2 linked regions of the Homo sapiens genome follow. The protein of the gene in region 1 purifies or fractionates together with the protein of each later gene. This does not show direct contact. Each region holds a gene or a part of one and is shown on either strand. Other genes may lie near its edges.

Region 1 (3,652 bases):
ACCCTGATTTTTAGTCATAAGTTTCCAAAAGAGGGTAAGGGTATGAATAGACTTTACACATAAAAGAGTGAAACACTTTGTTATGTAACATGTATAGTAAGTTTTTATTTTTTCTTTTGTTTTTATTTGCCTGTTTTTGGTAATCCAAATTGAAAAGGCCTGAACTCTTTCATGAGTTGAGTTCATATATAGTTTCAAAGTTCCTGAATTGATTTGGATACCTGCCTCTTTTTGGCTACCTTGAAAACTCTAGTGAACTCTCTTAATCACTGGAGAATTGGACTGAGATCTCTGAGTTGTGATTTCAGTAAATTCTGTTCTCAAAATTTTTTATAAAGCAGCATTTATATACAGTCTTGATTACTTGTGCAAGTCACTTCCAAATCCTAATGAGAAACTGTCTCTGGACTTTTATATTTTCTTAGACCTACAGTTTAAATACCAAGAAAGGCTTTCATGTCTAATGTAAAAATGCAGTGAAACTTTGATATTATTCTGCAAAGGCCATGAGAAAGATGATTACTTTGGAGACTTGTTACTTAGGATATTGGTTTTTAAAATGAGAGCAGATTCTTCCCAAATTCCATAGGTAGGAACGTGACTATAAAAGGAAAATCTATGAACCCCATATACCTACAAACTTTGGGTAGGAATTAAAACAAACATATACTATTCTTGAAATGTTAACTCACTATTACATCTTGGGGGGTGTGATTTTAATCAGGATAGAGTATTGTCAGATTGTTACTTGCTGGGATACATCCAAATTTTGAGGTTGTAGTCTTACTACATTATTTGTCTATCTGATGCCTTCCCCTTTTTTTCTTTGATACATTTGCATAAAGCAAAATGGCACTTTTTCACTAGAAATGTTTCTAAAACCCAAATAATTTCTTCATTTGTGTGTAGTAAAAACAAGCTTCAGGAAAAAAGTTATTAGAATTTTAAAAATTAGTTATAAAATTATGGCAAAGCTCATGAATAGTTACTGAAGATTAATTTACTACTTTGTGAATAGCAAGTTGACAAAAATAATTTACAGTTCCTGCTTGACTTTCTCCCCTCTAAGTGGCATAAAGTAGAACTAGAGTTATTTTGTTTTGGTTTTGACCCAACTTAGAAGATTTGTTTTAAAGTTTCTGAAGTTTTGTCTCAGGAAAATAAGGTGGTTTTCCATGTAGAGAATGTAAGATTACATATGGCATCTGGTAGGCTGAATTAATTCCATTTTCTTGTTACCTTCCATGGAAGAAGTTTCTAATAAAAAAATCTTTTCAGGGCCGAGCGCAGTGGCTCACGCCTATAATCGCAGTAGTTTGGGAGGCCGAAGCGGGTGGATCACCTGAGGTCAGGAGTTTGAGACCAGCCTGACCAACGTGGAAAAACCCTGTCTCTACTGAAAATGCAAAATTAGCTGGGAGTGGTGGTACATACCTGTAATCCCAGCTTCTTGGGAGGCTGAAGCAGAAGAATCGCTTGAACCTGGGAGGCAGAGGTTGCAGTGAGCCAAGATCACGCCATTGCACTCCAGCCTGGGCAACAGGAGCGAAACTCCATTAAAAAAAATATAAAAAAAAATATATATATATATAATATATATATATTATTTAAATATATATATATTTAAAAATATATATATTAAAAATATATATATATATTTAAATATATATATATTTAAAAATATATCTATTAAAAATATATATATATTATTTAAATATATATATATTTAAAAATATATATATTAAAAATATATATATTTAAAAGAGCCTGTTCTGAGCTCACAACTCTTTGGGGGATTATTAGTGGCCCATTTTCTTGGGGAATCAGGTGGTTTGTATTTAGAGGTTTATATGTCTTCTACTTTATTGTGTCCTTTTGTTTTCCTTTTCACAGATGACTTGACATTTTGGCACAGAATACATTTTAAATCCCTGGACAGAGTCATCACTTAAATGAACTAGCCCTTGCTTATATGTGCAGTGGATTGTGAAATGCGTCTACTGTAATAATATGCAATGTCTTGATTACCTGCTGAAATAAGGTGGATAGATGGATTTTTATTTTATTTAATATTTATTTATTTATGTATTTTGAGACAGGGTCTCACTGTCACCCAGGCTGGCATGCAGTGGTGCGATCTCAGCTAACTGCAATGCCTCCCGGGTTCAAGCGATTCTCCCACCTCAACCCCCTGAGTAGCTGGGAGTACAGGCACGTGCTACCACCCTGGCATATTTTTATATTTTTGGTAGAGACAGGGTTTCACCATGTTGACATGGTCTTGAACTCCTGGCCTCAAGTGATCCACCCGCCTCAGCCTCCCAAAGTGCTGGGATTACCATTGTGAGCCACCACACCCAGCCAAGATGGATTTTTAATTTGGAGTTTGTCACTTTTTCTGTACTCCAGGGTATGGTTTCTCATTGTCTGAAACATAGATTTTATTTTTCAAGCAGGCTATATTTTGTGGTTGCCTTTAAAAACATCCAGATGTGACAGACATTTCCTAATGAATACTAATTGTACTTATTTTGTACAAAATATTGTAGAATCCATAGATGGACAGGGTAGGATCTTTGCTTTCTGTTATAGATACATGTGTAATAGGGTAGATTATACTTAGATAACTGCAGACTACAATATCAGGTGATATATGAGTGTTAAATGTTTCACTAAGTTCTGCAGGTATGCTGAAAGAACAGTTTCTATCAAAGAAAGTAGGTTTCTAGGATAGGTAGGATTTGAATAGTCAGGGATTGGGAGGTTGGGGACATCATTCCAAGCAAAAAGAATGTAAACACTGCTGTAGCTATAGTGGAGAAAGGAATGTGTTTGGGGAATCCAAGTCTGGAGCACTGATGTGTGTGTGTTAGGAGGAATATTACTGTAAAGCAAATTGGGTTCTTGAATGCCAGGAGCAAGAATGTAGATTTTAGTTGATAGTAATTTCAGAGCCGCTGAAGTATTTTGAGCAGGGAATGAAGAAAGGCAATTTGGTGATGGCTTGTAAATGGATTTGGACAAGATGAGGGTTTTTTGAGACAGACTGATTGATTGGTGTCACAGAAAAGGGAGATAGAGGTGTTAGAAGAATTTGGCAACTAATTGGCAAAGTTTGAGCATGTGGGGCTGGGTTGGGAGTATCTCTAAAAGAACAATAATGGTACCTTCAACTGAAATAGCAAATCACAAGGAAAAGCTGATTCTAGTTTAAGGCAAGTCGAGTTTCAGAACTTTGGAGATTTGCAGTTGTAGGAGTGAAAGTAGGTGAGTATTCAGATGTCATTCCCATTGTTGAAACCTTGGATAATAATGTGTTTATTGTAATCCTACTTAAAATATGCATTTCTGTCAGAGTACAAAGAAAGATGGTGTCTATGGAGTGGGGGAAGGAGAATTACCATTTTCTAAAAACATGTCTTGGTTTTCTGAGTGTTACTTTTGTAATGTGAAGAACAATAAAAAGAGTTGACTATTTTAAGAAACAGATTCAGCATTATACAGGAAAAAGGGAACTTGGAAGATGTTTCTAAGTCCGAAGGAAACTAGGAGGAAAAAAAATGGAATTTTGGACCCTTTGGAGAATGCTCAGAGTTAAGGAGTAGGAAATAAGAGCTGGCATGAGTTCACAGTTTGAAGAAAAGGAGGAATT
Region 2 (3,652 bases), on another chromosome or scaffold:
TTTCCCTATGAAATAAACACTCATGTAAAGAGTGGAATTTGGTATTAAATGAGTTTCATGTTTGCTAACTAAACTTAATTAAAAGTCACAGCGAAGTAAGGAGGCTTCCAGCGTAAATAGATATATCAATCTTAAAATAGTGCCATATGGGCCAGGTGCGGTGGCTCATGCCTGTAATCCCAGCACTTTGAGAGACCGAGGTGGGCGAATCACAAGGTCAGGAGATTGAGACCATCCTGGCTAACATGGTGAAACCCCATCTCTACTAAAAATACAGAAAAATTCACCGGGTGTGGTGGCAGGTGCCTGTAGTCCCAGCTACTCAGGAGGCTGAGGCAGGAGAATGGCGTGAACCCGGGAGGCGAAGCTTGCAGTGAGCCAAGATTGTGCCACTGCATTCCAGCCTGGGTGACAGAGCAAGACTCCGTCTCAAAAAATAAAAAAATAGTGCCAAATGATTTTGTAAAGTCTAAGTAACCTAATATTAGAAGTGTATGCTATAAATTTGGTAAACATGTTGGACTTTACTTGAAGGACAACAGGATATCTAAGATTGCTATATTTAAGTATTTCATTGAGAAAGAGAGTGAACAAAGCAAAGAATTTGAACTTATTAAGTTTTTAGAATTTCAGAAAAGGCTATTTAAATTTCTCTACTTAAAAACAAAAATCAAAGTGGAAGTGTCTAAGAGAGAAAGATCTAATCCACCGGACAGAGAGGAACTGACACAGTTTTGAGGTTCCTGGGTAGGAAAATGAGATGTTTCTAGACTTTAGTCAGGCTGTCTCAGGGCTGTTCTCAGCTCTGCTGCAATGTCGCAGTATAAATGACTTAGTAAATTACCTAACCTCTTTAGCTTCTGTTTATTATCTTTACAAAGAAAATGTGGAACTAGGTGATTTCTAAGTTCTCTTCTAGATATAATAGTATATGATTTTAACTTTTTAAGCCCTCCTGACCACTAGATTTTTTATAAAATCTTAAATCTCAAAAAGTTCACCAAAATAAACATGTGGAAATGTCCTCAATACAAACAGAAATTAAAACTAATAATAGCCACTGAGGGACTTCCAAATTCACAGACCTGCAACAGCCAGCACAACTGTGCAGAGGAAGGCAGATGTGTTTTCAGAATCTAGGACCCTGCTCTTTTCTATGGTTTCTGTCCCCAAGCTTATCCAAAACACCTCAATACTTTTTGGGAAAGACACAGGGGTCTACTTGACACATGACCCACCCTCTCTCTCCAGCTAGCTAACTCTGCCTGCCCCAAGTCCAGTGCAGAGTTATAAGAGCAAACTTTTGGCAGCCTGAGTCACACTTCTTGCTTTTCCAAGTACCCAAGGCTCCTGCCACCTTCATTGTCTAAACCACATCTCCTAGAAAAAGACAGGAATAGCATTTCCTAGTTCCTCTTCTACCAAGGAAAGTCAGAGCAAATGAGGAGGAAGTACAAGAGAGGAAATAAAGAGGATGATAGGAGGAAAACCTTATGAGGGCAAACATTTTTTTCTGGGCAGAGAAGGTAGAAAGGGGAAGGGGAATAGGGGCTACCTGAGACACTGTAAAAATACTCATTAACCACTAAATAAAATGTCTGAATCTTCAAACAATAAAACTTTGAAAATATGTACTAGGGTAGAAACTTATTTTTTGGCCAAGGTCTAAGTTGGTATTTCTACTTATGCCGTTTATGTGGTTTGTCGGTATTGATTAAAACCAATGCATCTACCTTTAAAAAAAAAAAGCTTCTTTAAGTTAAGAAAAACAAAAGACAAAATAGCACCTGAAGCTACCACATGTACTTATTAGCAATTCTTAACAAAGAAAGAGAGGAAAAAACTCCTCTGAAAATGTACCTGTTCCATTTTTGGATTAACTACACAAAAGTAATTAAGTAACCAAATTTAAGAAAAACAAGTAAAGTTTTCAAATTTGCAAAGTTTCTAAGTGATAGTGAAAAATACACAATGAAATGAAAGGCTATACCCCACTTTATAATTGCACAGCTGCTACACCGATGTTTCAACAATATGGTTGACATTCTTCTTCTGACTAAGTGGGCATATCATAATTTGACAACAGTGAAGTTGTAAGGGGCTGTTTAACCTTTGGTTTGTTGGAAGCCACTTTGTTATTATGCATTTCATTACAGAGTAAAGGATACAGCACTGGCATGATTTATACCAACAAAGACTGCTACACACCGCATTACACTGGACCACTCTCTTTTAAATTTATGTGGTTCTCCTAGATGTCTGTCAATGCAGGGGTATAATAACCCAATCACAGCTGTAGGGAAAAAAGAAAAAAATTAAGTTACCTCCAATGTTGTACTGGCAACACTTAAGCTAAAAGAATCACTACAACCACCACAAGCATTTTAAAGATTCTTAAAAAAAAAAAAACAAAAAAAAAAGTTATTTCACATCAATCACCGATATTTTTTAACTTACCTTCCAAAGGAAATGAAATGAGGATAACACCAATGAAGAAAGTATTGCAAATGATTACAACAACATTCTAAATTATAATCAACAAAATACTCTTCAAATGTATGATTCACAATTTAGCAGACTGGACTAAATGATTCGTGCTACTAAATGATTCATGCTACTTTTCTACTACTGATACCTACGAGACCTGAAAAAAGTATCAAACCAGTTAGCAGTTAAGTAATGTTCTCTCTAAACTCCAAACCATAAAATATTTATTATATGCCACAAATCTAAGAGAATCTAGAAGTATAAAAGTATACAACAAGCTCATCATACACACAATGTTCTGAAGGTTCTGGCTGGCCTCTTACGTAGATCAGTCTCGCCCCTACCAGCTTCCCGTTTTAGTCTTCAGCATGTAGCACCTTTTACTGACACTCCTTTCCACTCTAGCCCTTTAATGAGGCTGTAGGTCATATTGTCAAAGCAGGAAAACTCACAACAGAAATCTACAGGTAAGACTCATTCTGCACATAGAAACAATGGAGGAAACAAGGTGTAGAGGTATTTAAAATTTTCAGTTAAATTTTAAGTGCACTGTTAGAAGAAGAAATCATCTTAGTACTTCTCTTAGTTTTGGAAAGAACACTTTGAATGTTGTGTCATTAATTATACATAACTGTATATAAAATGTCAATGATTGAGTCCCAAAATATTCTCATCCCTTTCTTATTTCTCAAACCTCAACATTTTATTCATTTAGTGGGAAGGAATTTTAAGTGCTAAATTAGTTATTAAAAAGACTATTTAATGAAAATATTCTAATCTTCCTAAAAACAGGATGATTATGTTGTGCCATTCTGGCAATAAAGACACTACTGTCACATCAGTTGAAAAGCATGTTTAAAATAACCAATACCACTTAAGAGGAATCATGAAATTACAACGCCAAAATCTAAGTGCCTGAGGGACAAGAGGCCCTCCCCCTACCCAGTATTAGCCAGCTGTATCTCACAGGCAATGCATTCACTCTTCGAAGAAAAACAGAAACCAATTAGTATCAAAAATCACAGCCTAGCAGACCAATGGTGCAGCATTTGAAAAAGGCTGTGTGACCACCCTTCTATCTCGAGATGAGATGCTGCAATACTGTATGCATTTTCTAGTCCACAACTCTTTTGAGTTAGGCATGTGCTGAGTATAGATGGCTCAC

Evidence for each region. Proteins that work in one complex are often made in the same cells at the same time.
Region 2: the proteins of RNF139 (region 1) and INSIG2 purify together in Homo sapiens (affinity purification with western blotting, with the first as the bait; one study listed by BioGRID). This does not show direct contact.

Annotation. Positions count from the first base shown.
Region 1 is NC_000008.11:124,481,367-124,485,018, forward strand, and holds part of RNF139 (E3 ubiquitin-protein ligase RNF139), read left to right. Parts: intron 1-1,893; exon of another isoform or gene 1,894-2,041; intron 2,042-3,652. UniProt on the Homo sapiens protein: E3-ubiquitin ligase; acts as a negative regulator of cell proliferation through mechanisms involving G2/M arrest and cell death.
Region 2 is NC_000002.12:118,101,838-118,105,489, reverse strand, and holds part of INSIG2 (insulin-induced gene 2 protein), read right to left. Parts: intron 2,294-3,652; coding exon 2,169-2,293; intron 1-2,168. UniProt on the Homo sapiens protein: Oxysterol-binding protein that mediates feedback control of cholesterol synthesis by controlling both endoplasmic reticulum to Golgi transport of SCAP and degradation of HMGCR.